7 linked regions of the Homo sapiens genome follow. The protein of the gene in region 2 binds, or shares a complex with, the protein of the main gene of each other region. Each region holds a gene or a part of one and is shown on either strand. Other genes may lie near its edges.

Region 1 (4,580 bases), on a different chromosome or scaffold from region 2:
AGGAAGGCTTATCCCACATCTCCTACCATAGCCCCACTCTAGTCAGCACCACTCCTGCCCCACCTGAAACCAGCTTTTACTTAGACCAGAGGTTCTCAACCGTCTATGTCTCACTTGTGGCGTACACTAAAAAGTTTACTTAACATGCTGTTTTCATACGCTGTTGATCCATCAGCAAGTCCTGTTAGCTCTACCTCCAAAAGATATCTGAAATCTGTCCATGTTTCTCCCATCACGATTACTAAGTCCTGGAGGCTATAACCTCGTCAAAACCAGTGTCATTTTTTGCCTGGAACACTACAGAAACCACCTAACTTACTTCCTGTTCTGGCCCTCTTACAGTCTATTTACCAGATCACTCAACAGTTTTTAAAAGTATAAATCAGGTCATGCCATTTCCCTGTTTAAAATAACCCAGTGGCTTCTCATTGCATTTAGAATGAAACACTAGGCCGGGCGCAGTGGCTCATGCCTGTAATCCCAGCACTTTGGGAGGCCGAGGCCGGCGGATCACCTGTGGTCGGGATTTCGAGACCAGCCTGACCAACAGGGAGAAACCCCATCTGTACTAAAAAAAAAATACAAAATTAGCCGGGCGTGGTGGCACATGCCTGTAATCCCAGCTGCTAGGGAGGCTGAGGCAGGAGAATTCTTTGAACCCGGGAGGTGGAGGTTGGGGTGAGCCGAGATCGCGCCATTGCACTCCAGCCTGGGCAACAAGAGCAAAACTCCATCTCAAAAAATAAAAAATAAAAAAAGAATGAAACACTAATCTTTACCATAACTATAAGGCCCTACGTAATCTCACCCCTAGCCACCTGGCTGCTACATCCTCACTTTGCTTTCCTCTCCCCATTGTGCCAGGCCCTGGCTACACCTCCTCAGCTCCATCTTTGGGGCACTGAACTGTCTGTGTCTTCTACTGTGCTCTTTCCTTCCAGACATCTTGGCTGACTTCTCTCATTTAATCCGTGTCTTATGTCAAAGCTGTGCCCTTAGGAAGACCTTCTCTGACCACCCTATTGAAGTAGCCAACCCACTCCCCCAGTAGTCTCTAATAAAACATTGCTTTATTTCCTTCCCAACCCTTATCACTCTAGGTTTATTTCTTCTCTTAGTTCTTCTTGTCTCTTGTATTAGAATTTAAGTGCCATTGTTCACTTTGATACCCCAAGTATCTAGAAAGTGCCTGGCACATGATAGGCACTCAATAAATATTTGATGAATTAGTGAATAAATGAAGACTTTGCATTCTTATATCTACTTTTTTCATTCATTGATTAATTCATAAATAATGGTATGGGGAAGTAGTAGTGGGAAGGGTTGGGTCTAATTGACATGATCCAGAAAAATGATATGATGCTAGCTGGAAGGAAGGTGGAAATTTGAAGGTAAAAATAGCCTGGTAGCCAGTGAGAAAGTACAAATGCTCAGGCTGATCAGAGCAGTGTCAGGTAGCTAGTTGTGAAGCTGCCCCTTCTGCATAATTTCTCAAAAGTCCCATCTATCAACAAGTTTGAAACTAATATATAAACATTACCTGCTATACATTTTTCCCAATCTTATTTTGCTCATCAGATACTAATTTTCATACAGGGAAATTGTCATATTTATTAAATGAGCATTCTAAAAGGATATCATTTTATTATGTGTAAGGATCCCTCTTAGTTGATGTTTAATTTAAAAAATTCAAATAAAGTGGAGAATCATTAAAAAATGGTCCATGCATCCCTTAATTGTTTTATTTTACCTTAAAATATATAAACATATGTTCATTCACTAATCATGTTATGTAAGACAGGAGTCAGAAAACTTTTTCTGCAAAGGCCAGATAATAAATACTTTTGGGTTTATGGGCCATATAGTCTCTGCTGTAACAACTCAACTCTGCCTCTGTATTTAGGGAAAACTGCCATAGACAATTTGTATATTAATGGGCAGACTGTCTTAGGAAAATGTTATTTACAAAAACTGCAGAAGTGCTGGATTTGGCCTGTAGACCCCTGATGTATGAGTTTTTCTTGCATAAATCGCTCATAATGCATTGTCTGCAATTTGTAGTTTGATTTCTAGATCAAATCAAAATGAGAACTTATCCTCTTATCAAGCAGTCTTAGGGCAGACCCTTAGTTTTTATGACTTTTCCCTGGTCCTTTCTTTATAGCTGTCCTTTGCAAGCCTCTGTAGAGTCTTTCCAAGCATTAGGCTTAGGTTTTTATAGAAAGAACTCTCTCTATTCACAATAGTCTTTCATTGGCATTTAGGTGATAGCTATTTATATAATGATAGTATTAAGTAGAACTTTTATAAATAAGTTTGGTAACCGGCACAAGCGAGTCTTGGTGAGCTGTAGTTCACAGTCAATAGCGGACTGTAGGGAGTAGCCCTGAGTGTTCAGTATGCTGTGAAAGGGTTTTTGTTGTTGTTGGTTTTTTTTTTTTAGGGAACTTATAGAAATGCTGGCAATTTCAAGAAACCAAAAGTTGTTACAGGCTGGAGAGGAAAACCAGGTAAGTGGCTTCTTTTTAAATTAGTTAATTTCTCTTTGTTTTTTAATTAAAAGAAAAAAACTTGATTTCTGCAAGTTTCCTCTTTATATTTACTTTGTGTGGGAACAGGAATGTTGGATCCTTTTAAGTTATTAATTAAAACTTTAATATTGGTATTTTCTTTGTATCATTTACTTAAGATAACAGTGCGCTTAAGAAGAATAGTTGCCTGAGGGTTTAGCAGTATTTTGTTATTTTCTCTTACAATTCTAGTCACACTTACATGTTTATTTATTTTTGTCCTTTGAATTAACCAAGAAAGGCTTGTTGTATGGAGATTACAACAATATTTAGAATCAAAAGTTAATGCTCAAAAACTTACCGTGTATTGTAAGTATAGTTCCCTAATGCAACTTGAACATGCAGGGAAATAAAAGAGCATACAACTCTTATTAGACATTGCCTTATAGGGGTGAAAGTACGGGCAGTTTTTATTTGCTCACTTTTCGGTGCTTTCTAATTTTCCATGGTGGGTGAACAGACTTTTTTTCCTGATTCAGAATTTTTTTAGAGGTAAGAGGATAAATTTTATATTATGTTTTTGGCACAGTTTTTTCTTTTTTGAGACAAGTTCTCGCTCTGTAGCCCAGGCTAGAGTGCAGTGGCATGATGACTGCTCACTGCAGCCTCAACCTGCTGGACTGAAGCGATCTCCCACTTATCCTCACCAGTATCTGGGACTATAGGCATGCGCTATAATGCCTTGCTAATTTAAAAGAAATTTTTTTTTTTGGTAGAGACATAGTCTCACTGTGTAGCCCAGGTCAGTCTTGAACTGTCTTGAACTCCTGTCCTCAAGGGATCCTCCCCACCTTGGCCTACCAAAGTGCTGGGACTATAGGCATGAGCCACCATAGCTGGCCAAAAAAAATGTTTAAGAGAAAATGAATGGAGAGGATTAACCTTTCTAAAGATGATGTAAAGGAGAAGAGGAGACAGTAATAAATCTTTTGTCTGCATCATTACCTTAGTTCTGTCTTACGTTTTGAGGGCAGGGAAATCTGACGGACTCAATAGAAAAGTGTCAGTGAGCCTCAAAAGGGGAGGAGGGGATCCAGATGAGGCCACAAGCTAGGAGAAACAGCTAACCTTAGGGGTAGTAAGGTTTTTGTTTTGTTTTTTTTCAAAAAAGAAAGAGGCTAGAGATAAATATGTTAATAGAAGACTACTAGTCTCTCAGGTACTCTGTTAATACCCGTGGGATTAAATAGGAATTTATACAAAGTATGCAAGAAGTAAAATGCAAGGCTTGACTTTATTTGATAGACACTTATTAAATGCTTGCTATGAGCCAGGCACACAGATTATTCAGAAGGTGATAATTAAGACCTATAATCAGCACTGATCTTTCTTGCACTTTTTAAAGAGTAGCAATTTGTGAATTGTGTCTTAGTACTGTGGATTCCTATGTAATTTTCATTGAAACTGTTACTATTAGAGAGGGATGTGCCCATTTGAAAATTTTCTAGCCACCATTTTATTTGGATATTTATAATTTTATATAGAATTTTAGAATTAGAAAGGATCTTAACGATGTTCAGTTCAACCTCCTGTGAGAATAAGCTCCAGGGTGGACGGATGAGGTAGAGGTTAATGGTGAGTGGAACCAGAACCTAGGTCTTCTGACTTTAGTTGAATAATTTTTTTCTACTGAACAATAAGATCTAAAGAGAATATTTTTTACTCATGGGTAGTATACAAATTAATTCAACCTGTGTAAACTTCTTGAAAGTTGTCAGGGAACTACTGTGTACTACTTGCTTTAATAATACAGCTTTTATAGAAATGGAAACCTAGCTTTCTCCTACGATGTGGGAGGAATGAGGATTAGAAGTCTGTTAAATAAATAGAATATACTTTACTTTTTACAGAAAAAGCTTTCTGTTGTTATTTAAAATACTCTTAATATTTGGCAGTTTGTAGCTCAGTCTTTTGTCTATTGTATTAGAAGAATTCCTATAAAATGAGAAGAACTTCATGTCAAAAGGATCTTGAAGAGGCATACCTGTACTTTTTAGTCTTCAACAAATC
Region 2 (4,223 bases):
AAGACTGTGCCTAAAAGGCAAAGTGGGCCAGGCACAGTGGCTCACGCTTGTAATCCCAGTACTTTGGGAGACTGAGGCAGGTGGATCACGTGAGGTCAGGAGTTTGAGACCAGCCTGGCCAACATGACGAAACCCCATCTCTACTAAAAATACAAAAAATTAGCCGGGTGTGGTGGTGGGCGCCTCTAATCCCAGCTATTCGGGAGGCTGAGGCATGAGAATTGCTTGAATCCGGGAAGCGGAGTTCGCAGTGAGCCGAGATTGCGCCGCTGCGCTCCAGCCTAGGTAACAAGAATGAAACTCCATTGCAAAAAAATAAAATAAAATAAGGGTCAGGCATGGTGGCTCACGCCTGTAATCCCAGCACTTTGGGAGGCTGAAGCAGGTGGATCACCTGAGGTCAGGAGTTCGAGACCAGCCTGACCAACATGGAGAAAGCCCATCTCTACTAAAAGTACAAAATTAACTGCACATGCCTGTAATCCCAGCTACTCGGGAGGCTGAGGCAGGAGAATCGCTTGAACCCAGGAAGCGGAGGTTGTGGTGAGCCAAGATTGTACCATTGCACTCTAGCCTGGGCAACAAGAGCAAAACTCCATCTCAAAAGTAATAATAATAATAAAAAAACAAAATAAAAGCCAAGTGTAGTTAGGGATTTTATACTGCTTTTTAGCTTTTAGGGAACAGAGTCCCTCCTTATGATGCATAAGTCTAGAGAGTCTATATTTACCACGATCAACTTCTGGAGATTTTCAGGAAATGCATTGTGTTCAAAATGCTGCCTATGCATTGTTTCATTCCATAAAAGCTGCAGCCTACAGAAAAATACAAATAAATAAACCTGGACGAGAGCAAATGTAAATCAGGAGGCCAAAAAGGTAAGATCTGTGCGTTTTATTTTTGTAAACTATATCTAAAACATACCTCAATATAAAAAACCAGAAACAAAATAACAAAAACGGGGTGAGAACAAAAAATACAGATGACAGGTTCTGTAGTTATGGTACTGAACTGAGCTTCCTGTCAGCCAAAACTAGAAGGGAAACATGACCACCACCTGACTTGTTGCAGAGGCTTTAGATCTGAGCACTTGGATCTGAAAACAGTTTCTCTTTAGATGCCTTCAAATAAGGGACAGTATCCTTGATGACAATACAGTACATACATTCACAATTCTCCAAGACCATCTCTGTGTATATCAAGGTTAACCTGGATGAATATTTCTGCAGCAGGCATGGGGTAGGCAGGCAATATGACCAAATATGTAGTTTGGAGGCTCAAATGAAACAGGAGAAAGAGCTCAGGAACCATGAAGCATGGTGCAGGTATCAGGGTCAAGTATTCTAACCCTAAGATCAGGGTGCATGAGAACTGGAGAGGCCTCAATACTGAGACTTAGACGAAAGGTGTGGAATTAACTTCCTAGTGTGACTAATCCAACTTAGCTCAAAGCGGCTCTGAGATCAGCCCTTCTCTCAAGTCAACTCATAAACAAATGCTTTAGTTACAGGAGGTATTAACTGCAAAATAACAGCCAAAAGCATTCCTGGGCACGTCCATTGAGCTCCATGTAACAGAAGCCATTAACTGCATCTCAGCAACCAAATTGTCTTTCATCTTGTAGTCACAGAATCCCTGAGTTTTAACTCAGCACATGACTGCCCAGATAAGAGGTTCTATGTCCCAGCATCTCTTTCAGCAAAGTGTGGCCACAGTGATCTGAGCAATGCTCAGTCATATCTTTTTTTTAAAATCTGCTCTTTTCTCTCTCTCTTTCCCCAGTGGAATGCAGATATGGAGCTGATGAGTCTGCTTTGATCTTATGGGTAAGAAAACATACTGGGAATGGCTGAATAAGACAGAAGGAAACAAAGTTCCTGATAACCTTGTAGAGTTAAATCTGCCCTAGACCATCTGATTACCTCTCTATTATTAGGTGAGAAAAAAACAAACTTCGATCTTATAGCAGTTTGGCCTGTGGCTTAACATATTTCACAACAGAAGGGAAAGATGTCAGAAGGAGATTTCAAAGGACTCAGGCAACACCCTAGGAAAGTCAATTCGCAAATCACTTCAGCAAACAGGTCAGAAAATAGTAACTATCAAACCAGTTGTGCCTTCTACTCCATCTCTAGGATAGAAGCCCAGCCACATCCTCTGAGGGAAGGAAGAGGCTCTTATTACAGCACAATCCAAACATAAAATGCAGCATGTTCACCATTGGCCTGGGACAAATCCTTAATAGTTGGGGATACGGACTATTTCCCCCACCAGTACCAGGCAGGGACATTCCTGTCCTACCTTTCCCCTAAAGGAGGCAAGGTCCAAACTTCTCCACTCTTCATAATTACCATTCTTGAGGACAGGCCAAATCCAGTAAGGCACGGAGTAAAACAGCTGATGGGGGGCTATGTGTGAGAGTCAGGGGGTTGGGGAGGGGACTCAGCCCCAGAACAAAAGCCACAGCTGAGAACCAGAGAAGGAGAGTAGAGTCCATGTCTACCCTGGGTTTCTGGGGTCCAGGGACCTGAAAGTCAGCACCTGCTCCTCCTGTGGAGTACCCCTGGTGACAGAGCTCAGCTGGCAGCTGCTCATCACTAACGAATCCCAGCCACCGGCACCTGCTGCTGCTTGCGGATCTTGTTGAAGAGTTCCATGTACTGGACCATGGTATCTGCTGGGCCGTAGACCGCATCATGTCTGTTCCCAAACACTGCGGGAGCCCCTGGTGTGTGGCTGCCTAGAAAACTCTGTAGGAACTCGAGCAGCAGACTCCAGCAGTCACTAGCTACCACACAGGGGCCATACTCCACCTGGGAACCAAAAGCACAGAGAATGAGGGTGAATGAAGGCTAAGACAAGGTCTGCTTCTCTTGTACCTCCTGCCTCCTGCTCCCATCTTCCCCAACCCCGAGCTAAAGACACACACCTCCTAGCACAGTATTGGTCCACAGGAAACATTCAACCTAAACACTGGGCTCAATACCCAGCATCTTTAGGCATCTTTGACCTTCTCATCCTGGAGCTGTGCCAACCCGCAGCCCTCCCAGAGGACCCAGAAGCAGATCTGGGCCCCTTTTGATGATCTCAGGACTGTGTTGTCCCTGCTATGCTGGGTAAAGATTCAAGGAGAGCTCAAGAAAATTCTAAGAGACACAACAAAGAGAAAGAGAAGGAAAATGTGTGTGGGGGTGGTAAGTAGAGAGTAGAGTGGACACATATGCTCATGAGTTTTTTTCAAGACCAAATTTTACTCCCTAAGTAGAACCAACCTGGGTTCTGACCCTAAGAAAGAATTTCCCAAATAGTGTGTCATGGGCCAAAAAATATACATCTTAGGTTTTCTCCTTCTGCTCTCTTAATTTTTTACTGGAGAGATGGCAGGGCAAAATTACTGGCAACCCTAAGGAGAAATAAGTAAAGAAACAGGTGGAGTGTGTTTCTACTACAAGATTAGAAATGTGGAGGATAAACAGCGGGTCCTCAGTGGGTCTCAGCAAATCCAAGGTCTATCACAAGCCGAAAGGGTTAGAAGTCTTGGTCCTAGAGGTTGCTGAGCAGAAACTACCACTAATGCCCTTTTCTCCAACTGGGATTCTTCCTAGACTTATCTATCCCCATGTCTCTACATTTTAAATCCCTACATAAATGTTGATCCTCAGGAAGCATCACAACCAAAGTCAGCAGTGTTCACACTGGCCTGAATTCCCAGAGCCAACTGCCTCTTTTATAGCATTTTCAGACTAACTTCAAAAAGAGTTTGTGTGTTTCAGCCTCACTCTTAATAAATAAATCACAAATTTTCAAAGGGTAGACCTGCAAGCTTACTTGTTTTCTTATCTCAGTGCTGGGCACATTATAGGTTGTGAACTTTCCCTGGTCCCAAAGAAGCCAGCCACTGCTACACTGCCACTCTCACTCCTTGTCACTATATATGTGTATGTATACACAGACACACACACACTCTCTGTGTCACAGATGAAGTGATCTCACACACAAACACTCTTTCTACCATGAAAGAAAGCAGACAGCATGTCAAAAGGAAAAGCACATTTTTGCTTCCCAACCTATCTTAAAGCATACTAAGGAAAGGTATATGGGCATATGTGATTTAGGGCCCACCGCCAGAAAATTGTTCTAAGAGTTGTCCTGGTCTGCTCCAGAACTTCTTGTCATGGGTGACTGTCCCTCCATATCATAACTCACCTGCCTTCCTTGACTAT
Region 3 (4,580 bases), on a different chromosome or scaffold from region 2:
GGCACTGGCCAGGCGTCCCCCAAGGACACACCTGCAGCCTCCTGGCTCAGCGTGCTTGGGGACACAGAGCCCATGCCCTACAGGGTGAGGCTGGAGGTAGAACCACTCGACAGGCAAAGTGGTTCCAGGCCAGGCAGAGAGAGACCGGCCCGGCCTGGGTGGAGGGGGCACTCACATCTGCTCGCGCATCTTCTTGAAGTCATCAAACAGCTGCAAGGCTGTGCTGAGTCCTTCCGCGATGAGGCTGCAGCTCTCACCACCCCCGCCCATGAACCTGCAGGGGCAGAGCGGTCAGCCCCCAGGGTTGCCATCATCCCCATCCCCAGGCTATGCTTGAAGAGCCTGCTCCCATGCTGTCCCCCACTCTATCCTGGGCTATGCACCTTGGGATGACGGGGACCCTGCTGAGTTCCCTACCCAATCCCTGGTGCTAGCACAGCACCAGTCCCAGACAGGACAGGGGACATTTGCTGTCTGTGTTTTTTTTTTTTTTTGAGATGGAGTCTCGCTCTGTCGCCCAGGCTGGAATGCAGTGGCATGATCTCAGTTCACTGCAAGCTCCGCTTCCTGGGTTCATGCCATTCTCCTGCCTCAGTCTCCCGAGTAGCTGGGACTACAGGTGCCTGCCACCACACCTGGCTAATTTTTTGTATTTTTAGTAGAGACGGGATTTCACCATGTTAGCCAGGATGGTCTCCATCTCCTGACCTCATGATCCACTTGCCTCAGCCTCCCAAAGTGCTGGGATTGCAGGAGTGAGCCACCACACCCGGCCGACATTTGTTGTCTTTAATCATGAGGACTGGGAGGGAATGGGAAAGGGCTGGGGACCCCAAGCCTAGGATCCTGTGCTGACTCCAACCCTGGAGTGACTGACTCCATGCCCAGCCTCCTGCTGTCCCCTCCCCTCTCTGGGCTGTCTGCTCCAAATCAGTCCTGGCCCCACTTCACCTTCCCAGCCAGAGACGGGGGCCTCCTCTGTCCTCCTAGTCTTATGGGTTCAAGTGTGCCCCCTTCAAAAAGACAGGTTGAGGTCCTAAGCCCCAGTACCTCAGAAGGTGACCTAATTTGGAAAGATCTTTACACAGGTAATCGAGTTAAATTGCGGGCCCTAATCCACTATGGCTGGTGTCTGTGAAAAGGAGAAACGTGGACACGGACACACACACAGAGGGAAGACACAAGGACACAGAGAGACACAGGGAGAGGCCATGTGAGGACGGGTGATGCAGCCTCAGCAGGCACCAGGAAAGGCAGAAGGGCCCTTCCCCTGTAAGATTTCAGAGACAGCCTGGCCCTACCACCTGGATTTTGGACTTCCAGCCTCCAGAACCCTGAGACATCAATTTCCATTCTTCTGGCCAGTTTCTCATACTTTGCTACGGCAGCCTGGGAAACTAACACACACAGACTCTCGTTTCTCCTCCGCCTGATCTGCAGTCGCGTCGCAGCATCCGTCCCACATGGGTTGTGGCCCGGGGATGGCCTCTCCTCAAGGGCAGCTGTGGTTGCCACCATTATTCCGGTCACGTGGTCGTGAGAGGCTGACCTTTGCTGCAGGGGACGTGTGTGGAGACCGAGCACCCCTCTGAGGGTCTTGAGGGCCCTGTCCCCCTGAAGTGTGGTCTCTGATCCTACCTCTCCCACAGGCGGGGATGGGGTCTGAGTCCTCTCTTACCCCCAGGCTTGCCCACCACAGCGGGGCACATGTGAGGCCTCAGGAAATGTAGGCTAAGTGAATGAACGTCTACAGGCCCAACCGTGTCCATCAAGACTGGAACCAACCCAGGCCCTCGGCCCGGCATCGGCCCAGCATCCGAGGCCTCCGAGTCCTGCACCCCGTCCATCTCTCCTGCTCCATGCCCGCACCTATAGGTCCTCTCAACTGACAAAGCCCAGACATCCAGGTCTCTGCATGTGCTGGAACACACCCATTCCGGCCCGGATGGAATCCAGCTAAACTACGACACCCATCCTGGTGTGCCCTCCTATAGGAAGCCTTCCCTACATGCCACCTAATTTTACGGCCTGCCCTTAGTCACATCATAGATCACCCGATACTGCAGCTGTCAAGCTTCTCTCCGCACCCTGTGCAGCCCTCCAAGAGAGACACCAAGGCGTCTGACCCTAGGTCACACAAGGCCTAGGAACCATCTGCTGAGTACTCAGTGCACTGGTGGCCTGGCAGGGCCATGCAGCGGGGCTCTCCGCTTCCTGCCTGAGTTCTCGCACTGATTTCCTTCCAGTCCCACTCGGCCCGGCCAGTGAGCACACTGAGCCCCTGAGCCTTCTTCCTGCTCTCAGGGCACTCGGGCGCTGCTCCCAACCCACCACACACTTCCCAGCCCTCCTCTTCCTAGCCATCAAAACAGCTTTTGTTTTTGAGACGGAGTCTCGCTCTGTCTCCCAGGCTGGAGGGCAGAGGCACATCTCCGCTCACTGCAAGCTCCGCCTCCCGGATTCACGCCATTCTCCTGCCTCAGCCTCCCTCGTAGCTGGGACCACAGGTGCCCGCCACCACGCCCGGCTAATTTTTTTAATTTTTAAGTAGAGACGGGGTTTCACGGTGTTATCCGGGATGGTCTCGAACTCCTGACCTTATGATCCACCCGCCTCGGCCTCCCAAAGTGCTGGGATTACAGGCGTGAGCCACTGTGCCCGGCATCAAGACAGCTTTGCACGCAGAAACTTCAACTGTGTGCAAAGAGTTGGGGTGAACCAACTCTGGACCCAGCTGTTCTGCTACAGGTGAAATTAAGCCAATATTTTCCTGGGCCTTTCTGGGACTCGAGCCAAAACCACCCTGGCTGGGGATGGGGGGATGGGGGAATGGGGAGCTAGTGCTTCATGCATATGGGGTGTCCTCTTTGGGGTGATAAATTTTTTTTTTTGAGATGGAGTTTCGCTCTTGTTGCCCAGGCTGGAGTGCAATGGCACGATCTCAGCTCACCACTACCTTCGACTTCTGGGTTCAAGTGATTCTCCTGCCTCAGCCTCCCGAGTAGCTGGGATTACAGGCATGCGGCACCACGCCCAGCTAATTTTGTATTTTTAGTAGAGACAGGGTTTCTCCATGTTGGTCGGGCTGGTCTCGAACTCCCGACCTCAGGTGATCCGCCTCCTCACCCTCCCAAAGTGCTGGAATTACAGGCATGACCCTGTAAAACAGTTGGAAGTGACTGGGTGCAATGGCTTATGCCTGTAATCCCAGCACTTTGGGAGGCCGAGGTGGGCGGATCACTTGAGGTCAGGAGTTCAAGACCAACCTGGCCAAAGTGAAACCCTATCTCTACTAAAAATACAAAAACCAGCCAGACATGGTGGTGGGTACGTGTAATCCCAGCTACTCGGGAGGCTGAGGCAGGAGAATCACTTGAACCTCGGGGGCAGAGGTTGTAGTGAGCTGAGATCATGCCACTGCACTCCAGCCTGGGAGAGAGAGAGAGACTCCATCTCAAACAAAACAAAACAAAACAAAACCCTTATGAGGAAAAGTGTGATAAACTAACCAGTTTGAGATGCTAAAACTTGCGTTTCTCTTATTGAACACTAAGTACAAGTCATGTGCTACAAGCTCAAAGGGCGACATGTAATAAACATTTTGTCAAAGAAATGTGGAAAACTTGAACAGAAGAAGCACTATGGCTGGCTGCAAAATATGGCTAAAATATCAAGTTTATGATAAATTCCAAATAAACCCCTTGATATGGCAGACACAAAATAAAAATAAAAGCCCCCTAGGTGACACAAGTGGGCTCTGACTTGGTGTTCCCAAGTCCTCTAACTTACTCCCATTTGTTCTACCCAGTATCATTCCCCGGGGTCTCTGCTGCCCGCTTTCATCGGCTAACAGGTGCCTGGAGCCCCAGGAGGTCAAAATGAGTGAATGTTAACAGCATCCGGCCATGACCAAGGGCTCCCTACACACGGCCTGTCACCCAGGCAAACTAGTTCCATGAGGGCCAGGACCTTGCCTATCTCATGCCCACTAACTCCTTGGTGCCCAGGACGATTTGTTCCACAAACATTTGTTGAATTAATGAGTGAACATATGAATGAACAACTGAGTTGTCATAATGTTATGGGAAACACACTGGGTCTATTTTCCTTCCACCTCTTTTTTTTTTTTTTTTTTCCCGAGACAGGGTCTCGCTCTTTCACCCAGGCTGGAGTGCGGTGGCACAATCTCGGCTCACTGCAACCTCTGCCTCCCAGTCTCAGTTGATCCTCCTACCTCAGCCTCCTGAGTAGCTGGGACTACAGGTGTGCACCACCATGCCTGGTTAATTTTTTCTATTTATTTGTTGTTTTTGTATTACATACTAATTCATTTATTCAGCCAGTCTCCTGAAGCCCCGTGGGTGCCAAGCCCCAGCTGGAAGCAAATGGCAGAAGCACCCAGGGACCTGGACATTCACAGTCCAGAGGTGTGGGGCTGTGACAGGTCATGGAGGCAGAGGAGGAAGCATCTGGCTGCAAGAATCGGGAAGGTTTCCCAGGGTATAAGACACCTGAGCTGGGTCTGGAAGGCTATGCAGTGTCTTCCAGGGTGGTTAGTATTAAATGCATTCTGGACATTC
Region 4 (4,447 bases), on a different chromosome or scaffold from region 2:
GGGACTTAGAAAACAGAAGACTGCAAGCATTTGTAGGAATGGGTAGAAAGAAAGTCATAGGCAGATTCAGGAGAGATGGTAAGAAGCAGACAGACAGACATGGATACACATATACATGCGGAAGAGAGTTATGCGGGGAGAGAGTGAAGGGTGGGGCACAGGGAGAGGTGTGGAGGCACAAGATGAAGCCAGCCCAGACCAGGAGAGGAGATGAACTAACGGGGCGGGGGGCGTGTGGGGAGAGAAGATCGGGAGAGAAAGGGGTTGGGGAGAAAGCCAGAGAGGGAGCGGGGAGGGAGAGGGATTGACATTCAGAGGAAGACAGAAAAAGGAAGGCAGAGAAAGAGAGAGAGGAAGGCAGGGAGAGACTCTGCCTTTAGGCAGGCCGAGAAAGAGTCAGAGAGAGAAAGAAACAGGAAGAGAGAGACAAAAAGGTGGAGAGACAAAGAAAGGCAAACGAGTCAGACAGGGAGAGAGACAGAGACGGAGGAAAAGAGACAGATGGACTAGGAAGACAGATGAAGAGAATGTATATATGAAGGAGTTAGACTTTGGGTTTTAAACTATACACAATAATTATGGTTACTCAACAAATACCGCAACTGACAGAGAGGGAAAAGATAAAAGTGTGCAGAGATGGGTGGGTGTAGGGAAACACAGAAATAAAAGAGATACAGGCTGTCGGCCAGATAGATGGGTGGGGTAGGACATGGGGCAGGTGGAGCAGAGGAAAGAGGAGGGTAGGGTATTGAAAAATGGGTGGTATGTTAAAAGGTGAGGGCAGGGTGAAGGAAAGAGGGTGGGACTTCAAAGATGGAGATGAAATGTAAGGAAAGTTAAGTGATTTGCTCAAAACCCCAGAGATGGTGTTCACCGGCAGAGACTGATGGGCTCCTGAATCTGATGAGTCTGTTGGAGCTACAAAGCTGATGCAGGCAAAGTTCTTGCCCAAAGGGGAAAAAAGGCAAGGGACACGGGCAGACAATGGAACATGCCTCCTTCTTGAAGATGGAATCGAAGCCAGCAATCTTGTTGCCCTTGGTATCGATAAGGGAGCCCTGTGGCTCACACGTGATGACATCTCGGGTCTGCTTGGGCAGTGGCAGCAGCTGGCGAACCTTTTCCAGACTGTCTGACTGGCGCTCCCCCAACTCCTTCTGCAGGCACAGGAAGATGGGACAAGAGTTCAGAGATACAGAAAACAGGGATGGGAAGTCTCAGGGGACAGCACAGAACCTGGCACAGAGAAGACCCCCACTCAGTAAATGCTCACGGCATGAGTAACAAAGAAAAGGCAGACGTGAGAAGGAAAGGTAGAGGGCTCCAGCCAGAAGCAAGTTCCTGAGGCTGGACAGCAGATTCCAGTAACCGCAAACCTTGCCCCCGCTTCCTCTGCTTACCTGCAACTTCTTCGCCAGGTTCATGTATGCACGCTTGTTTTCCTCCATGCTACCTTGCGAGATGCTAGACATGTCTGCAGCCAATGTCCCATTGATGAGCACGCTCAGCATGTCCAACACAGTAGTGAAGAGCTCACTGAGACAGGAAGCCAGAGAGAAAACCAAAGAAGAAAGAGGTGAAGATAGAAAAAGGCCTCAGCAGAGGACACAAGCAGGGAGAGGTGCTTAATATGTCATCCCAAGGGCACCAAAACTGTATGGGGAGCCCAGGGCCACGGAGTCCACAGTAACAGCCACACCAATCTCAGTGGGTGCACCTGGCATGGGAGTAGGGGGAGCTTCTTGGGTATGAAACTGCAGGGAGCGGGTGGGGATGCTTTACTTGTTGGACTGCATGTCGACAGTGCCGCTGATGATGATCTCCAGGAGGAGCATGGCCCACTCCGTGGTCTGCTGGGTGCTGCGCTGCACCGTGTCAAACATGCCCCCCACCTGCCAGGGCCACAACAAGTCAGTCAGATGGCTCAGGGACAAAGGCCAGAGTTTCAGGAAAGCTTAGTTCCAATCTGAGTTGGGACGCCTGAGTTCATGCTTGAGTTTTTTTTTTTTTTTTTTTTTGAGACGGAGTCTCGCTCTGTCACCCAGGCTAGAGTGCAGTGGCGCGACCTCGGCTTACTGCAAACTCCGCCTCCCGGGTTCACGCCATTCTCCTGCCTCAGCCTCCCGAGTAGCTGGGACTACAGGCGCCTGCCACCACGCCCAGCTAATTTTTTTTGTATTTTTAGTAGAGACGGGGTTTCATCGTGTTAACCAGGATGGTCTCGATCTCCTGACCTCGTGATCCGCCCACCTCGGCCTCCCAAAGTGCTGGGATTACAGGCGTGAGCCACCGCGCCCGGCCATGCTTGAGTTGAGCCTATGATTTGCTACATGATCTCAAGACAATGACGGAATTCTTGACGTCTCTAGGCCTCTGTTTCCATACTTAGAAAGTGATGGGAATTGGACAGAATGATTTCCAGGATTCCATTCAACATTCCACAGTGGGTTTCCAGTGCTTCTAGGGCCCAGTCAGAATCTAGGATACTGAGGCAGAGGCCCTGCAAGGATCCAGGGTACATAACCTATTGGACCATGACCACAGTGATCCAGCCCCCTTAACCACTTTCAGTCCCTGCATACTTTCAGAGAACAAGGTTAATACTTCAAGACTCAGGCTGGGCACGGTGGCTCATGCCTGTAATCCCAGCACTTTGGGAGGCCGAGACAGACGGATCATTTGAGGTAAGGAGTTCAAGACCAGCCTGACCAGCATGGTCAAACCCCATCTCTATGAAAAATACAAAAATTAGCCAGGTGTGGTGGTACACACCTGTAATCCCAGCTACTCAGGAGGTTGAGGCACGAGAATCACTTGAACCCAGGAGGTGGAGGTTGCAGTGAGCTGAGATGGCGCCACTGCACTCCAGCTTGGGTGACAGAGTGAGACTCTGACTCCAAAAAAAAAAAAAACCCTTCAAGACTCAGAATAACCTGGGGCCTCTATCCTTACCCCCATTCTCCCCAACCTGAGGCTTTTGCACTCCGCATTTCCAGCCCTACCCTCTTCCTTCTTCTCCCCAGCTGGCCTTCTCACCAGGTTGAGCCGCAGTTTGAGTGCCTCATGCATAAGCTGCTTTGGTTTGCAATCATCTAAGTACTGGTCATCTCGCCAATTATTCACAATCTAGAATAGAAACAAATAAAATATGCAGCTCAGGGATCTTCGTGTTTCCATCCCACAGCAGCCAATATGTTTATCAGAAAGTACTGAAGTTTCCAAGTACAGAGTAACCCCTTAGGTGCATCCTTCCCTGACCTCCTGCCCACCTCCATGGCCCAGAGATCTGTACCTGGTGCACCTGGCTGTAGAGGGAGGTAAGGAGTCCCTCGCGTTGTTCATCCTGCCCTTTCAGACATGTTAGCACCAGCGATAAGAAGGGCTGCTGGCTCAATAGGGACATGCTAGAGACAAGAGAAAGAAGAGAAGAGAAGAGAAGAGAAGAGAAGAGAAGAGAAGAGAAGAGAAGAGAAGAGAAGAGGAGAGAAGAGGAGAGGAGAAAAGGGAGACTGTGGGTTGGGAGTCAACTTCCAACCTCATTCTCCAGACTACTCTCTTAAGATCTAGCCTCTTGCTCAGCCATGCCCACTCTTATCCTCTGATTTTCCACTTTCCTATGATGCTTCTCCTTGGCCCATTTTATTCTTCCCCGGGCCTGCCTCTTCTCCTTTCTACCCCTCAATCTTGGTCCACTCCCTAAGCCCCTTTACCTCTTCTGCTTTTGTCGATCACGTTCTTTGCGTGAAGAGGAACCCAGGTGCTGACCCTTCTCCAATTCTTCCCCAGCAGCCTTTAACACATGTCCCTGGACTGAGGTGGGCAGTTTAGCAATGAGGGGGGCCACCAGCCATACACCAGAGCGCTCTAGAGAGCTGGAGAACAGACAGAGGACACAGGGTCACAGGGGAGCCAGGCAAGGCTGGAACAATCTATCCTCTCCTTTCCCTGATGGACATGCTGGCATCTCCACGCATCTGATATCACTCACGCTACCAGCAGATAAACTCCTAAGGGGATGGGTCCTAACATGTTTCTATCCGACCTGAGCACAGGCTTGGTCTTGCTGCTGCTGGGCATGTTGCTTGCAGTACTTCCAGAAGATGACCCTGTCTCTGCTGACTGTTGGAAAACCTCGATTGTGGCCTTGGCGATGTTCTCCAAGAGGGAGTTCATCTCCTGGGGAGGATGAAAGGCACAGAAGTGCTAAAATAGGTAGCTAAGGGTGAAGGAAAGCAGATGGTAGGAGAGATCGGAGATGACGGAGAAGGACAACACTGGCGGAGATTGATGGGGAGATAGGAACGCAACTCTGTTGGGAATCATGCCCTCTAGTACCTCCATATTTCTCCAATTCCTCACTGTCTTCTCCTTTACATACCTCCTTACATCTATGGCCAGAGAAACAGGCTCCACCACCACCACCAAGCTTCCCCACAGCTCAGAGCTC
Region 5 (4,580 bases), on a different chromosome or scaffold from region 2:
TGGGGGCCCCTGGTGATGTCTGGAGATATTTTTAGTTGTCACCACTGGGGGTGCCCCTGCCAAGTAACGGGTGGAGGCTGGGGAGGCTGCTCAACAGGACACCCCCATCCCAGAGGCTGCTCCAGCCCCCGATGTCTGTGGTGCCTACGGGGAGACCCTGGTCTAGAGAGAATGAATGAATGAGCTGAAGCATTTTGGGAGGCTGAGGCTGGAGGATTCCTGGAGGCTGGGAGTTGGAGAGCCTGTGCAACGTAGGACACCCCATCTCTACAAAAAATAGAAACAACTAAAAACAAAAATGAAACGCTTGGCACACAGCGACGGCCCAAGGAGGGAGAGGGCGAGGTCTCGCCATCACTAGCGCTGTCACTGGCTACGGATCCCAGCCACGCTGGGGTTTAGCCTCGCAGCCCCCGCCTGGGTCTCACGCGTTTCTCGGCAGGCTGTGCCGTGAATGGGATTTTTTTTTTCCCATTTTATCTTCGTATTGGTTTCTGATGGCACAGAGGAAAACAAGTGAAGCTCAGAGGGCTGGTCCCACGTGCAGCTGCCGGCTGAGCTCGTTAGATCTGAGGTCCTTCGAGGACACTCTGGGATTGCAGGCACATAACCACACCACTGCAAGGGACCCTTCTGGCACGTGGGCCTCCGTATCCGCTCCCTCCTCTCCTTCCGACGGGCGGGTCTCTGTGTGTTCATCTTCTGACCGTGTTTGCTGAGGCCTCACACCACAGGGCCACCGGGTGTGCATCCTGGTACCCATCACATTCTGAGAGGATGGCTTAGAAAGATACCTCCAGACTGGGAACACTGGAGAGGGGAGCCGTCCAGGGGGGATCAGGCCTTACCTGTGGGGCTTAACGTGTTACAGAAGAAACTTCCCAGGTAAGGAAGGAAACTGCTTCTCTGAGGTGCAGCTTTCCTGGACGGGCCTCTGGGAGCACACCCCACACGCAGCCTCACCTGCCACAGGCTACCTGCCCCTCTTGCCCTCCGCCTGCCATAGAGCCCCCAACCTGCCGCAGGGAAACCCCTCCAGCTGCCACAACCCCCACATCTGCCGTGGGGACCTCTACAACTGCTGCAGAGACCTCCTCCACCCTCCAAGGGAACTCCCTCCCTGCTGCTGGCACTTTACTGACCACGGGGCCCCTGCCTGCCACAGGGACAGCCCCACCTGGCACGGGACCACCTGCCACGGGGCCCCCACCTGCCACGGGGCCCCACCTGCCACGGGGCCCCCACCTGCCACAGGGCCCCCACCTGCCACGGGGCCCCACCTGCCACGGGCCCCCACCTGCTGCAGGGCAGCGGTCTGGCGCGTGTACTCCTCGTGCAGCTTCTCCACCAGGCTCTGTACCATACTGGGCTGCACGTGCAGCAGGATGTCCCACCAGTCGTAGCCGGTCACCATGCAGTACTCCAGCAGGAAGAGCAGGTGCCGCAGCGCCAGCCCCACCTCCAGCGGGTGGCCCATGGAAGGTGAGAGGCGGAGCACGCTCAGCTGCCAGAGACAGAGCCCAAGGAGAGCCCGGTGAGATGGGGCTGCGCCCTCAGCCGGGAGAGGAATGGGGCCCTGGGGCTGCGGCACGTGTGTGGATCTGTGTGCGCGCACGCCCGTGTGTGGGCCTGTGTGCGCGCATGTGTCTGTAGCGTCTGTACCTTTCTGTCAGGGTCATGCACAATGCCTCTGGGAACAGGGAAGGAAACCTCCCTGAGCCCCGACTGCACTGGATGCCGAGCCAGGCTTACACTCGTCTGCTTTACCTGAGGAGTCTACCCCGTGAAAGGCGGTCCTCTCAACAGCTCCTAGTTACGAAGCTCCTAATACGTGCTGTGAGCCACCCCACTGACCTCGCTCAACAAGACGAACCCATCACACAGACAAGGCAGCGCAGGCAGGGGCTGGCGAGGGGCTTGCACCTGTGGTCCCTTCCCCCGGGGGCGCCTCCCTCTGGCACCCTCCCAGCCCCAGCCCCAGCCCCAGACCCACGTGCCCCAGCAGCTCGCCTTCCCCTGGTTGTCAATGCCCACCAGCCCCTGCCCCACGTGCCCCAGCAGCTCACCTTCCCCTGGTTGTCAATGCCCACCAGCCCCAGCCCCAGCCCCAGCCCCAGCCCCACGTGCCCCAGCAGCTCGCCTTCCCGTGGTTGTCAATGCCCACCAAGCCCAGCCCCACATGCCCCAGCAGCTCGCCTTCCCCTGGTTGTCAATGCCCACCAGCCCCAGCCCCACGTGCCCCAGCAGCTCACCTTCCCGTGGTTGTCAATGCCCACCAGCCCCAGCCCCAGCCCCAGCCCCACGTGCCCCAGCAGCTCACCTTTCCGTGGTTGTCAACGCCCACCAGCCCCAGCCCCAGCCCCACGTGCCCCAGCAGCTCGCCTTCCCCTGGCTGTCAATGCCCCCCAGCCCCAGCCCCAGCGCCACGTGCCCCAGCAACTCACCTTCCCCTGGTTGTCAATGCTCAGCAGCTCACCTTCCCGTGGTTGTCAATGCCCACCGAGCCCAGCCCCACGTGCCCCAGCAGCTCACCTTCCCCTGGTTGTCAATGCCCACCAGCCCCAGCCCCAGCCCCAGCCCCACGGGCCCCAGCAGCTCGCCTTCCCCTGGTTGTCAATGCCCACCAGCCCCAGCCCCACGTGCCCCAGCAGCTCACCTTCCCGTGGTTGTCAATGCCCACCAGCCCCAGCCCCAGCCCCAGCCCCACGTGCCCCAGCAGCTCACCTTTCCCTGGTTGTCAATGTCCACCAGCCCCAGCCCCGGCCCCGGCCCCGGCCCCACGTGCCCCAGCAGCTCACCTTCCCCTGGCTGTCAATGCCCACCAGCCCCAGCCCCACGTGCCCCAGCAGCTCACCTTCCCGTGGTTGTCAATGCCCACCAGCCCCAGCCCCAGCCCCACATGCCCCAGCAGCTCACCTTCCCGTGGTTGTCAACGCCCACCAGCCACAACCCCAGCCCCACGTGCCCCAGCAGCTCACCTTCCCCTGGTTGTCAATGCCCAACAGCCCCAACCCCACGTGCCCCAGCAGCTCGCCTTCCCCTGGTTGTCAATCCCCACCAGGGCCAGCCCCACGTGCCCCAGCAGCTCCCCTTCCCCTGGTTGTCAATGCCCACCAGCCCCAGCCCCACGTGCCCCAGCAGCTCCCCTTCCCCTGGTTGTCAATGCCCACCAGCCCCAGCCCCAGCCCCAGCCCCACGTGCCCCAGCAGCTCACCTTTCCCTGGTTGTCAATGTCCACCAGCCCCGGCCCCGGCCCCGGCCCCGGCCCCGGCCGCAGCTCCACGTGCCCCAGCAGCTCACCTTCCCCTGGCTATCAATGCCCACCAGCCCCAGCCCCAGCCCCACATGTCCCAGCAGCTCACCTTCCCCCGGTTGTCAATGCCCACCAGCCCCAGCCCCAGCCCCACGTGCCCCAGCAGCTCGCCTTCCCCTGGTTGTCAATACCCCCCAGCCCCAGCCCCAGCCCCAGCCCCACGTGCCCCAGCAGCTCGCCTTCCCCTGGTTGTCAATGCCCAGCAGCTCACCTTCCCATGGTTGTCAATGCCCACCAAGCCGAGCCCCACATGCCCCAGCAGCTCGCCTTCCTCTGGTTGTCAATGCCCAGCAGCTCACCTTCCCATGGTTGTCAATGCCCACCAAGCCCAGCCCCACGTGCCCCAGCAGCTCACCTTCCCCTGGTTGTCAATGCCCACCAGCCCCAGCCGCACATGCCCCAGCAGCTCACCTTTCCCTGGTTGTCAATGCCCACCAACCCCAGCCCCACGTGCCCCAGCAGCTCGCCTTCCCCTGGTTGTCAATGCCCACCAGCCCCAGCCCCACGTGCCCCAGCAGCTCGCCTTTCCCTGGTTGTCAATGCCTACCAGGGCCACGCCCCAGCAGCTCGCCTTCCCCTGGTTGTCAATGCCCAGCAGCTCACCTTCCCGTGGTTGTCAATGCCCCCCAAGCCCAGCCCCACGTGCCCCAGCAGCTCACGTTCCCCTGGTTGTCAATGCCCACCAGCCCCAGCCCCACGTGCCCCAGCAGCTCGCCTTCCCCTGGTTGTCAATGCCCAGCAGCTCGCCTTCCCCTGGTTGTCAATGCCCACCAGCCCCAGCCCCACGTGCCCCAGCAGCTCGCCTTCCCCTGGCTGTCAATCCCCACCAGGGCCAGCCCCACGTGCCCCAGCAGCTCACCTTCCCCTGGTTGTCAATGCCCAGCAGCTCGCCTTCCCCTGGTTGTCAATGCCCACCAGCCCCGGCCCCACGTGCCCCAGCAGCTCACCTTCCCGTGGCTGTCAATCCCCACCAGGGCCAGTGACGTCCACGATAGCTGCATAGCCTTTAAGTGGACGGCGGGGCCCGCGGTGCGGGGGCGCTTCATGGCCGGCTCATCCACAGGCCTCGGGGCCGCGGAGCTGTAGAAGACGGCCATGGTCTGCAGTGAGAGCCGGTGCACGATGTGGACGCTGCCGTCGTGGAAGGCCAGGGCCAGCCCTGTGGGGCACAGGCACTGCTTAGACATGGGCAGGGCCCAGGACACGCCCGCCGGGGGAGGGGCCTCCTGCTCTGCAGGGTGTGGAGAGCCGGGGCTGCCCATCCAGG
Region 6 (4,083 bases), on a different chromosome or scaffold from region 2:
GTTACTGCTCAGTAGTCCAGGAAAGATAATGGTTTGAACCAGAGCATAGCAGGGCATAGAGAAGTAAATGGATACAGGATGTTAGAGGTAGAGCTGACAGGGTTGAAAAATTGAATACAGGGCCAGGCGCTGTGGCTCACGCCAGTAATCCCAGCACTTTGGGAGGCTGAGGTGGGAGGATTGCTTGAGCCCAAAAGTTTGAGACCAGCCTGGGCAACATAATGAGACCCCATCTCTACAAAAAATAAAAATAAATTAGCTAGGGATAGCAGCATGCACCTGTAGTCTCAGCTACCTAGGAAGATGAGGTGGTAGAAATCACTTGAGCCCAGGAAGTTGAGGCTGCAGTGAGCCATGATTGTGCCACTGCACTCCAGCTTGGATGATAGAGGAAGACCCTGTCTCAATTAAAAATATATATTGTATATAGAAGTGAAGGAAATAGAGGAATTGATGCCTTTTTAAGTTTTCGGCTTGAATAATTGGGTGTATGGGTACGGAGACTTGGAAGATGAGGAAGGAACAAGTTTGAAGAGGTGGAAATCAAGAGTTATTTTGGACATGTTTGGTCTCCAAGATGCCTCTTTTTTTTTTTTTTTTAAACAGAGTTTTGCTCTTGTTGCCCAGGCTGGAGTGCAATGGCACAATCTCAGCTCACCACAACCTCCGCCTCCCAGGTTCAAGCGATTCTCCTGCCTCAGCCTCCCGAGTAGTTCGGATTACAGGCATGTGCCACCACACCCAGCTAATTTTTTATTTTTAGTGGAGACAGGGTTTCTCCCTGTTGGTCAGGCAGATCTCAAACTCCCAACCTCAGGTGATCCGCCCACCTTGGCCTCCCAGAGTGCCAGGATTACAGGCGTGAGCCACTGCGCCCAGCCTCCCAGATGCCTTTCATTGTCTCAAGTCTTATTTCCACATCATGACTTGAGGGAAATAGCAACAAATATTGGTATAGTACTTTGAAGTTCACAACACACTTACATGCAGTATTTAATATAAGTAGTATTTAATACTTAGAATAGCCCTTTGAGGTAGCATTACTGTCTACATTTTATAATTGAAAAAACTGAAACATGGAGAAGTTGACATCCCTTTGATTAGTTAGTGGTTGATGTCCACCAGCGGTTTCTTTTAATCTTTCTTTTGCCTTCCCTATTCTGATTGTAGCTATTTGTATCAGTCAGTTGACAGATATTGAATATATGTTCTGGGCAAATGCTGGGTGTATGAGGCGGGTGAGATGGAGAGAGAGATTAGTAATGCTGGTCATTGCTTTTCAAGGAGTTTAGTTAGGAATGTAAAATTTGTGGTTTAAGGATAGTGACTATATTTCCTGTCACCTCCATCTCATTTTGTGCTCATGCCTCACAACAGCAATTAACAATATCTTAGCCATCAATATTAAGAACTACCTAATGGTTTTCAAAGTGTGTTGCTATCCAGAATGACAGTGAGAATAAGATGTCACTTGAGCTAGACCTTGAATAATCCATATTGGTGAAGAAAAATTAGGAAGAATTTTCCTAAGATGAAATAATGTGAGGGGTGTTTTTTTGAGGCGATAAGGAGATCCATTTGGATGGATCAGAAATTTTGCATAGGAGAGTAGTGGTTGATGAGGCCCCAAAGCTAAGTTGGAGTAAGATGTAATTAGCCTTGAGTGCCAGTCAAAGGAATTTGAGCTTTCTCCTGAGGGCAAAAAGAAACCATTAAGATTTGTGAACTGAGGAGTACTGATTTCCAAAAATATCTGGAACATGTGGGTGCCATGGATTGAAATAGAGAAGCCCTGAGTGATGTTGGCAAGATTTGGAATTTCAAAACAATTTTTTTTTTTTTTATCTTGTTGGGCAGGGTGGTTCACGCCTGTAATCCTAGCACTTTGGGAGGCTGAGGCAGGCAGATAGCTTGAGTCCAGGAGTTCAAGACCAGCCTGGGCAACATAGGGAGACCCCTGTCTCTACAAAAAATACAAAAATTAGCCTAGCATGGCAGTGTATGCATGTAGTCCCAGCTACCTGGGAGGCTGAGGCAGGAAAGTAGTTTGAGCCCAGGATGCAGAGATTGCAGTGAGCTAAGATTGTGCCATTACACTCCAGCCTGGGTGACAGAGCGAGACTGTCTCAAAAAATAAATAAATATAAAAAGTAATCTTTGTAGAATAGTCAAAACTGGAATTTGAACTCTCAAGTTACAGTTTAGAAAAAGCACAGACTGCCTTCTCACCTGAGCCTTAAGGATAACCATCTGGACAGAGGAGAGTTGGCAGAGCAGGGGAAATTCAGAAGATTGTAATGGCAAGAGGCAGTGCCCAGAGTTATGAGGAGAGATACTGTGACATTGGGTCTCCTGCCATTACCCTCGCTCAGTCTTCTGAGTTGTTTGGTAGTAAAGGGAAGGAAAAGGATGAATAAGGCCTAGAGGTATAGAGGGAAAGTGCCTTGTTTATTTAATAAATATTTATTAAGCACCTAATGTGTGTACTGTGCTGGGCACTAGCGATACATGAATGAACAAGACATTGTCTGTGCCTCCAAGGAGCTTACAGTTCAGTACCTCAGTTTTCCCAAGTGAATGATTATAAACAAGCCATTTTTGTCATTTGTACCCTCTGTGTCTATCATAATTACAAATGAAGTTGTAGTTAGCTATTTCTACCCTTGCTAGTAGGTCCTTATTAAGTTACTAATAAATGTATATTTTTTAAAAAAGAATCAGCCATGCAATATTTATATGGATAGTGCCTTGCATACATATAATACTTTTTTTTTTTTTTTTTTGAGATGGAATCTGACTCTCCCACCCAGGCTGGAGTGCAGTGGTGCAAACTCAGCTCACTGCAACTTCCACCTCCCGGGTTCAAGCAGTTCTTCTGCCTCAGCCTCCCAAGTAGCTGTGACTACAGGCGCATGCCACCACACCCAGCTAATTTTTGTATTTTTAGTAGAGATGGGGTTTCACCATATTGGCCAGGCTGGTCTCAAACTCCTGACCTCAGGTGATCTGCCTGCCTTGGCCTCCCAAAGTGCTGGGATTACAGGCATGAACCACTGTGCCAAGCCTGATACTTTATGCTTTTCAGCATATTTTCATTTGAACCTTGGGAGAAAATTATGTGTATGTAAGATAGCTATTATTCCATTCCACAGATAAGAGGAAACTGAGGCATGGAAGACAGCCAGAATAATTCTAGTTGCCTGACTTGTTTTTTTGTTTTTGTTGTTTTGTTTTGTTTTGTTTTTTTTGAGACAGGGTCTCACTCTCTCACCCAAACTGGAGTGCAGTGGCCTGATCTCAGCTCACTGCAACCTCCGCCTCGCAGGGATTACAGGTGTGTGCCACTACTGTCCAGCTAATTTTTGTATTTTTAGTAGAGACAGGGTTTCACCATGTTGGCCAGGCTGGTCTTGAACTCCTGACCTCAAATGAGCTGCCCGCCTTGGCCTCCTGAAGTGCTGGGATTACAGGCGTGAGCCACCGCGCCTGGCCATTAGTTGACTGACTTCTAATCAAACATTTCTTCCTGGATGCGTGCTGTGGCTCACACCTGTAATCCCGGCACTTTGGAAAACCGAGGCGGCGGGGGGTGGCGGATCACTTGAGGTCAGAAGTTCAAGACCAGCCTACTCAACATGGTGAACCCCCTTCTCTACTAGAAAAAAATTAGCCAGGCATGGTGGTGTGTGCCTGTGATCCCAGCTACTTGGGAGGCTGAGGTGGGAGAATCACTTGAACCTAGGAGGCGGAGGTTGCAGTGAGCCAAGATCGTACCCCACTGCACTCCAGCCTAGGCGACAGAGCAAAACTCCCGTCTCAAAAACAAAAAACATTTATTCCTTTTAGGCAAGGCATCATACTCAGTATCACGAGGAAGAATAAAGATGTTGGTAACAAGTTAGGCAGTGGTAGCTAGAAAAAAATCTCCCAGTTCTTTTCTTATGTAAAGGTGATTAGTGTTTCTTGCTAGTAAAAAAAAAAAAAAGTCCTTGACAAGACCCTTAAGTCACTGGGTCATATTTGGCCCCCTGAGCATGGTTGTAGCTGAGCTGCAAGGTCGTATTTTCCTAGCTGTGTCAGAGA
Region 7 (3,888 bases), on a different chromosome or scaffold from region 2:
ATGCTGCTTGGATTAATAGAGCTAGGATCAGGATCTAGGTTTGTATAGCATCTGAGCACTTATTGCTCCATTACAATTAGCAAAACCTGGGCAAAGCCATTTAGTCATAAGTGACTTTATGACTAGTTAGATAAATATGAAGGAGTAGTGGAAAACGAGTCAGTAGAGTTGACTTAGATTATTGAAAGCTTCAAAACAGCCTGAGTTGGAGATTTATCTTGAAGACAGTGGTGGAGTAAGCTTAAATGTTTTGATCAGGTTAAAATAAATAACCTGGTGAACTGGAAAACAACAAGAAGACTATTGTAATAATTCTGGTGTGAGATAATTGGTTGAACTAAGCAACAGTGATAGAAGGAAAAGAGAAAGATTTGTAGTATTAGCAGAATATGAAGATCAAAGGAAAGTAAGAATCTGAAGTTAGATTGGTTGACTAGGAGACTTTCAATACAAATTAAATATTAAAAAGAGGAAACAGTTGCCTTTGAGTTCTGTCATTGAAACAATGGCAGAGAAACCCAGTGGAAATACTTATTAGAAATAGGAGGTTTGAGAGGTCAAGACTAGGTGAGAGAAATTGGTAGGGAAGATAGGTGTATTTAATTTGGAGATGGTAAGGAATTGCTATTCCCAATCTTTAAAAGTACTTAAGGAATACTTTTAGAGTACAAGAGTTTACAAATTGAGTCTTGAACAAATACATTTCTGCTTACTTAAGGTGCTTTTCTGAGCAGCCTCTTCCTCACTATTTCTTTACACTTGTAACTACTCCAGTCTCAGAAAAGGAATCATATACTTTGTGCATGAGAAATAAATTTTTATTAAACATGGTGCCATAGATATTTACAAGTCAAATTTGCTCTTTTCCATCACTATCCCCAAAAAGTCTTTACTTGTGGCTTACAATAAGTATTGGCCAATATTCTCTTATCATTTTACTATCACAAGAAAAGAAAGATTATTTTGTATTTCAACTGTTTCAACTAGATTTATATCAAATTTAACTTTACCTAGATTGATACCAAACTTAGTTTCTTTGCAGAATTAAAACGTTTAATCAACATTAATAATAACTGGCTTATTTTATCAACAATCACTCCTTTCTGTTTTATTCCCTTGCTCAGAGATTATCATTACAGAAACTTATTGTTGTTGCCATTACCAATAAAGTCCTTAAAACTGATAAGTCCTTTCTAACCTTGATATGTTTTCTTTGGCCTAAGCTTGCAGATCAGTTTTGTAATGCCATTGGAGTATTGCAGCAATGTGGTCCTCCTGCCTCTTTCAATAATATTCAGACAGCAATTAACAAAGACCAGCCAGCTAACCCTACAGAAGGTAAACAGGTTTTCTTAGCTTCTCTTAGTTTGACTCTCACATTTTTTGTAATCCTTTAAAATTAGATTTCTTGAGAAATTCAGCTTATTTTATTTCTAAAATTATTGTTGTTTGAGAATATTACAAGTTTTGTTTGTTGTAAAAAATTTACAGTCAATTCACCTAACATCTCATAATTCTGGTTCATGTCAGATAATAGATTGTTACTCCTTTAGAGGAGAATTTGTATTAATTTAGCTGAGTGAGGGACCTTAACAAGGAAGGCATCCCATTTATAAATTTCTTTATTCAGGTGACCACTATATTGTCATAATAAATGAAATTACATACATTATGCTTAATTCCCAATTTGAGCTAAATGTGTAACAGGATTGGTGTATATTTTAATCATTAGAATCTTCTTTTTTTTTTTGAGACGGAGTCTCGCTCTGTCACCTAGGCTGGAGTGCAGTGATGCAATCTTGGCTCACTGCAACTTTCGCCTCCCGGGTTCAAGGAATTCTCCTGCCTCAGCCTCCTGAGTAGCTGGGATTACAGGCTCATGCCACCACGTCTGGCTAATTTTTGTATTTTTAGTAGAGATGGGGTTTCACCATGTTGGTCAGGCTGGTCTCAAACTCCTGACCTCGTGATCCGCCTGCCTTGGCCTCCCAAAGTGCTGGGATTACAGGCGTGAGCCACCACGCCTGGCCGAATCATTAGAATCTTAGGGCAGAAAAAGCTATATGAAGTTTCTGGTTTCATTAACTTAAAATTTGTTTCTGAAAACTTGAGGTTTTCTAATATCCTAATCTAGCAGTATCTTTCTCTAGAGTATGCCCAGCTTTTTGCAGCACTGATTGCACGAACAGCAAAAGACATTGATGTTTTGATAGATTCCTTACCCAGTGAAGAATCTACAGCTGCTTTACAGGTAAGCCTCTATTCCTTTGAGAATTTTACCAGTAATAGAGAATTTTGAATTAAAGGAGGTAGATTTAGTACCTTTTGTCTGTGTCCATTTGTGCTGCTATAACAACATACCTGAGACAGTAATTTATAAAGAACAGAAATTTATTTTCTCACAGTTCTGGAGTCTGGGAAGTCCAAGATCAAGGCATTTATTACTCACTGTGCATGAGTAATGAATTTTTATTAAACATGGTGCCATGTTTAGGGCCATGTTGAGGGCCTTCTTCCTGTTTCCTCACATGGCTGAAGGCAGAAGGGCAAAAGAGCAAGAGCTCCCTCTTCAACCTCAAGCCATATTTTAAGGGTACTAATTCCATCTATGAGATCTCTGCCTTCATGACTTAATATCCTCTTAAAGGCCCCTTCCCTCTTAATACCATCACATTGGGGATTAGATTTTAATGTATGAATTTTGGAGGGGATGCATTCAAATCATAGCACCTTTTGTTATAATATTCAAATTTCCATTATAAGGAAACCTCTTATTTTCCTCAATTTTGTCTCTTTTCCTAGTGAAGAATGAGAGGAGGGTGGCATTCTACAATTGGAGTAGAATAATGGTGTCTAAACGTAATGTGTAAGGGAGTCACTTAAAGATATCTAGAGATCTCTAATTGAAAAGTCATTCTTTTTAATAATTCACATGGGGAAAATTCTTAAAAGTTGTCTGATTTTTAGAATTTCTTTACTGAAAAACATATCACAATGATTGCAAAGTCATCCAGATTTAAAAATAAGTACATCTGTGACAGCTTCTCTTTCTAAACTCTAAAGATTTTAAAATTTGTGTCTTATAAAGGCTGCTAGCTTGTATAAGCTAGAAGAAGAAAACCATGAAGCTGCTACATGTCTGGAGGATGTTGTTTATCGAGGAGACATGCTTCTGGAGAAGATACAAAGCGCACTTGCTGATATTGCACAGTCACAGCTGAAGACAAGAAGTGGTACCCATAGCCAGTCTCTTCCAGACTCATAGCATCAGTGGATACCATGTGGCTGAGAAAAGAACTGTTTGAGTGCCATTAAGAATTCTGCATCAGACTTAGATACAAGCCTTACCAACAATTACAGAAACATTAAACACTATGACACATTACCTTTTTAGCTATTTTTAATAGTCTTCTATTTTCACTCTTGATAAGCTTATAAAATCATGATTGAATCAGCTTTAAAGCATCATACCATCATTTTTTAACTGAGTGAAATTATTAAGGCATGTAATACATTAATGAACATAATATAAGGAAACATATGTAAAATTCTGTTATGACATAATTTATGTCTCCATTTTGTTGTATTGGCCAGTACTTTTACAAATCAAAACATCTCTCAAGCCAAAGGAGAAGACAGTAAGAACAGACATAAGGGACATTTTAGTTTGGGCTAGTGTCCTGCCTCTTAGAGGTGGCATTGTGTAAATCTGAGCTTTGAGCAAGAAAGTTTTGGAAATTGTGTTGCTTTTAAGAAATAGAGTTAGTGTGGCTGGATAAGAAAGTCACATTTATGCAAATGTTTCTTCTGCTAGAACCTCATACCTGTTCTAGTTCATCTCCACGTTTATTTTACCAAGAGATCCTCTGTCAAGAGAATTTCCTGGCT

What was found.
Region 1: MED20 (region 2) and MED4 share a complex: the UniProt entries of both Homo sapiens proteins name them as parts of the mediator complex.
Region 3: MED20 (region 2) and MED25 share a complex: the UniProt entries of both Homo sapiens proteins name them as parts of the mediator complex.
Region 4: MED20 (region 2) and MED12 share a complex: the UniProt entries of both Homo sapiens proteins name them as parts of the mediator complex.
Region 5: MED20 (region 2) and MED16 share a complex: the UniProt entries of both Homo sapiens proteins name them as parts of the mediator complex.
Region 6: MED20 (region 2) and MED19 share a complex: the UniProt entries of both Homo sapiens proteins name them as parts of the mediator complex.
Region 7: MED20 (region 2) and MED21 share a complex: the UniProt entries of both Homo sapiens proteins name them as parts of the mediator complex.

The regions. Positions count from the first base shown.
Region 1 is NC_000013.11:48,088,282-48,092,861, reverse strand, and holds part of MED4 (mediator of RNA polymerase II transcription subunit 4), read left to right. Parts: intron 1-2,443; coding exon 2,444-2,510; intron 2,511-4,580. UniProt on the Homo sapiens protein: Component of the Mediator complex, a coactivator involved in the regulated transcription of nearly all RNA polymerase II-dependent genes.
Region 2 is NC_000006.12:41,904,475-41,908,697, forward strand, and holds the end of MED20 (mediator of RNA polymerase II transcription subunit 20), read right to left. Parts: intron 2,814-4,223; coding exon 2,598-2,813; 3' UTR 880-2,597; downstream 1-879. UniProt on the Homo sapiens protein: Component of the Mediator complex, a coactivator involved in the regulated transcription of nearly all RNA polymerase II-dependent genes.
Region 3 is NC_000019.10:49,824,143-49,828,722, reverse strand, and holds part of MED25 (mediator of RNA polymerase II transcription subunit 25), read right to left. Parts: intron 275-4,580; coding exon 176-274; intron 1-175. UniProt on the Homo sapiens protein: Component of the Mediator complex, a coactivator involved in the regulated transcription of nearly all RNA polymerase II-dependent genes.
Region 4 is NC_000023.11:71,131,802-71,136,248, reverse strand, and holds part of MED12 (mediator of RNA polymerase II transcription subunit 12), read right to left. Parts: intron 4,177-4,447; coding exon 4,043-4,176; intron 3,873-4,042; coding exon 3,711-3,872; intron 3,405-3,710; coding exon 3,293-3,404; intron 3,127-3,292; coding exon 3,037-3,126; intron 1,893-3,036; coding exon 1,783-1,892; intron 1,537-1,782; coding exon 1,401-1,536; intron 1,158-1,400; coding exon 996-1,157; intron 1-995. UniProt on the Homo sapiens protein: Component of the Mediator complex, a coactivator involved in the regulated transcription of nearly all RNA polymerase II-dependent genes.
Region 5 is NC_000019.10:875,677-880,256, forward strand, and holds part of MED16 (mediator of RNA polymerase II transcription subunit 16), read right to left. Parts: intron 4,473-4,580; coding exon 4,261-4,472; intron 1,505-4,260; coding exon 1,298-1,504; intron 1-1,297. UniProt on the Homo sapiens protein: Component of the Mediator complex, a coactivator involved in the regulated transcription of nearly all RNA polymerase II-dependent genes.
Region 6 is NC_000011.10:57,705,898-57,709,980, reverse strand, and holds part of MED19 (mediator of RNA polymerase II transcription subunit 19), read left to right. Parts: intron 1-4,083. UniProt on the Homo sapiens protein: Component of the Mediator complex, a coactivator involved in the regulated transcription of nearly all RNA polymerase II-dependent genes.
Region 7 is NC_000012.12:27,025,197-27,029,084, forward strand, and holds part of MED21 (mediator of RNA polymerase II transcription subunit 21), read left to right. Parts: intron 1-1,223; coding exon 1,224-1,338; intron 1,339-2,150; coding exon 2,151-2,251; intron 2,252-3,088; coding exon 3,089-3,265; 3' UTR 3,266-3,888. UniProt on the Homo sapiens protein: Component of the Mediator complex, a coactivator involved in the regulated transcription of nearly all RNA polymerase II-dependent genes.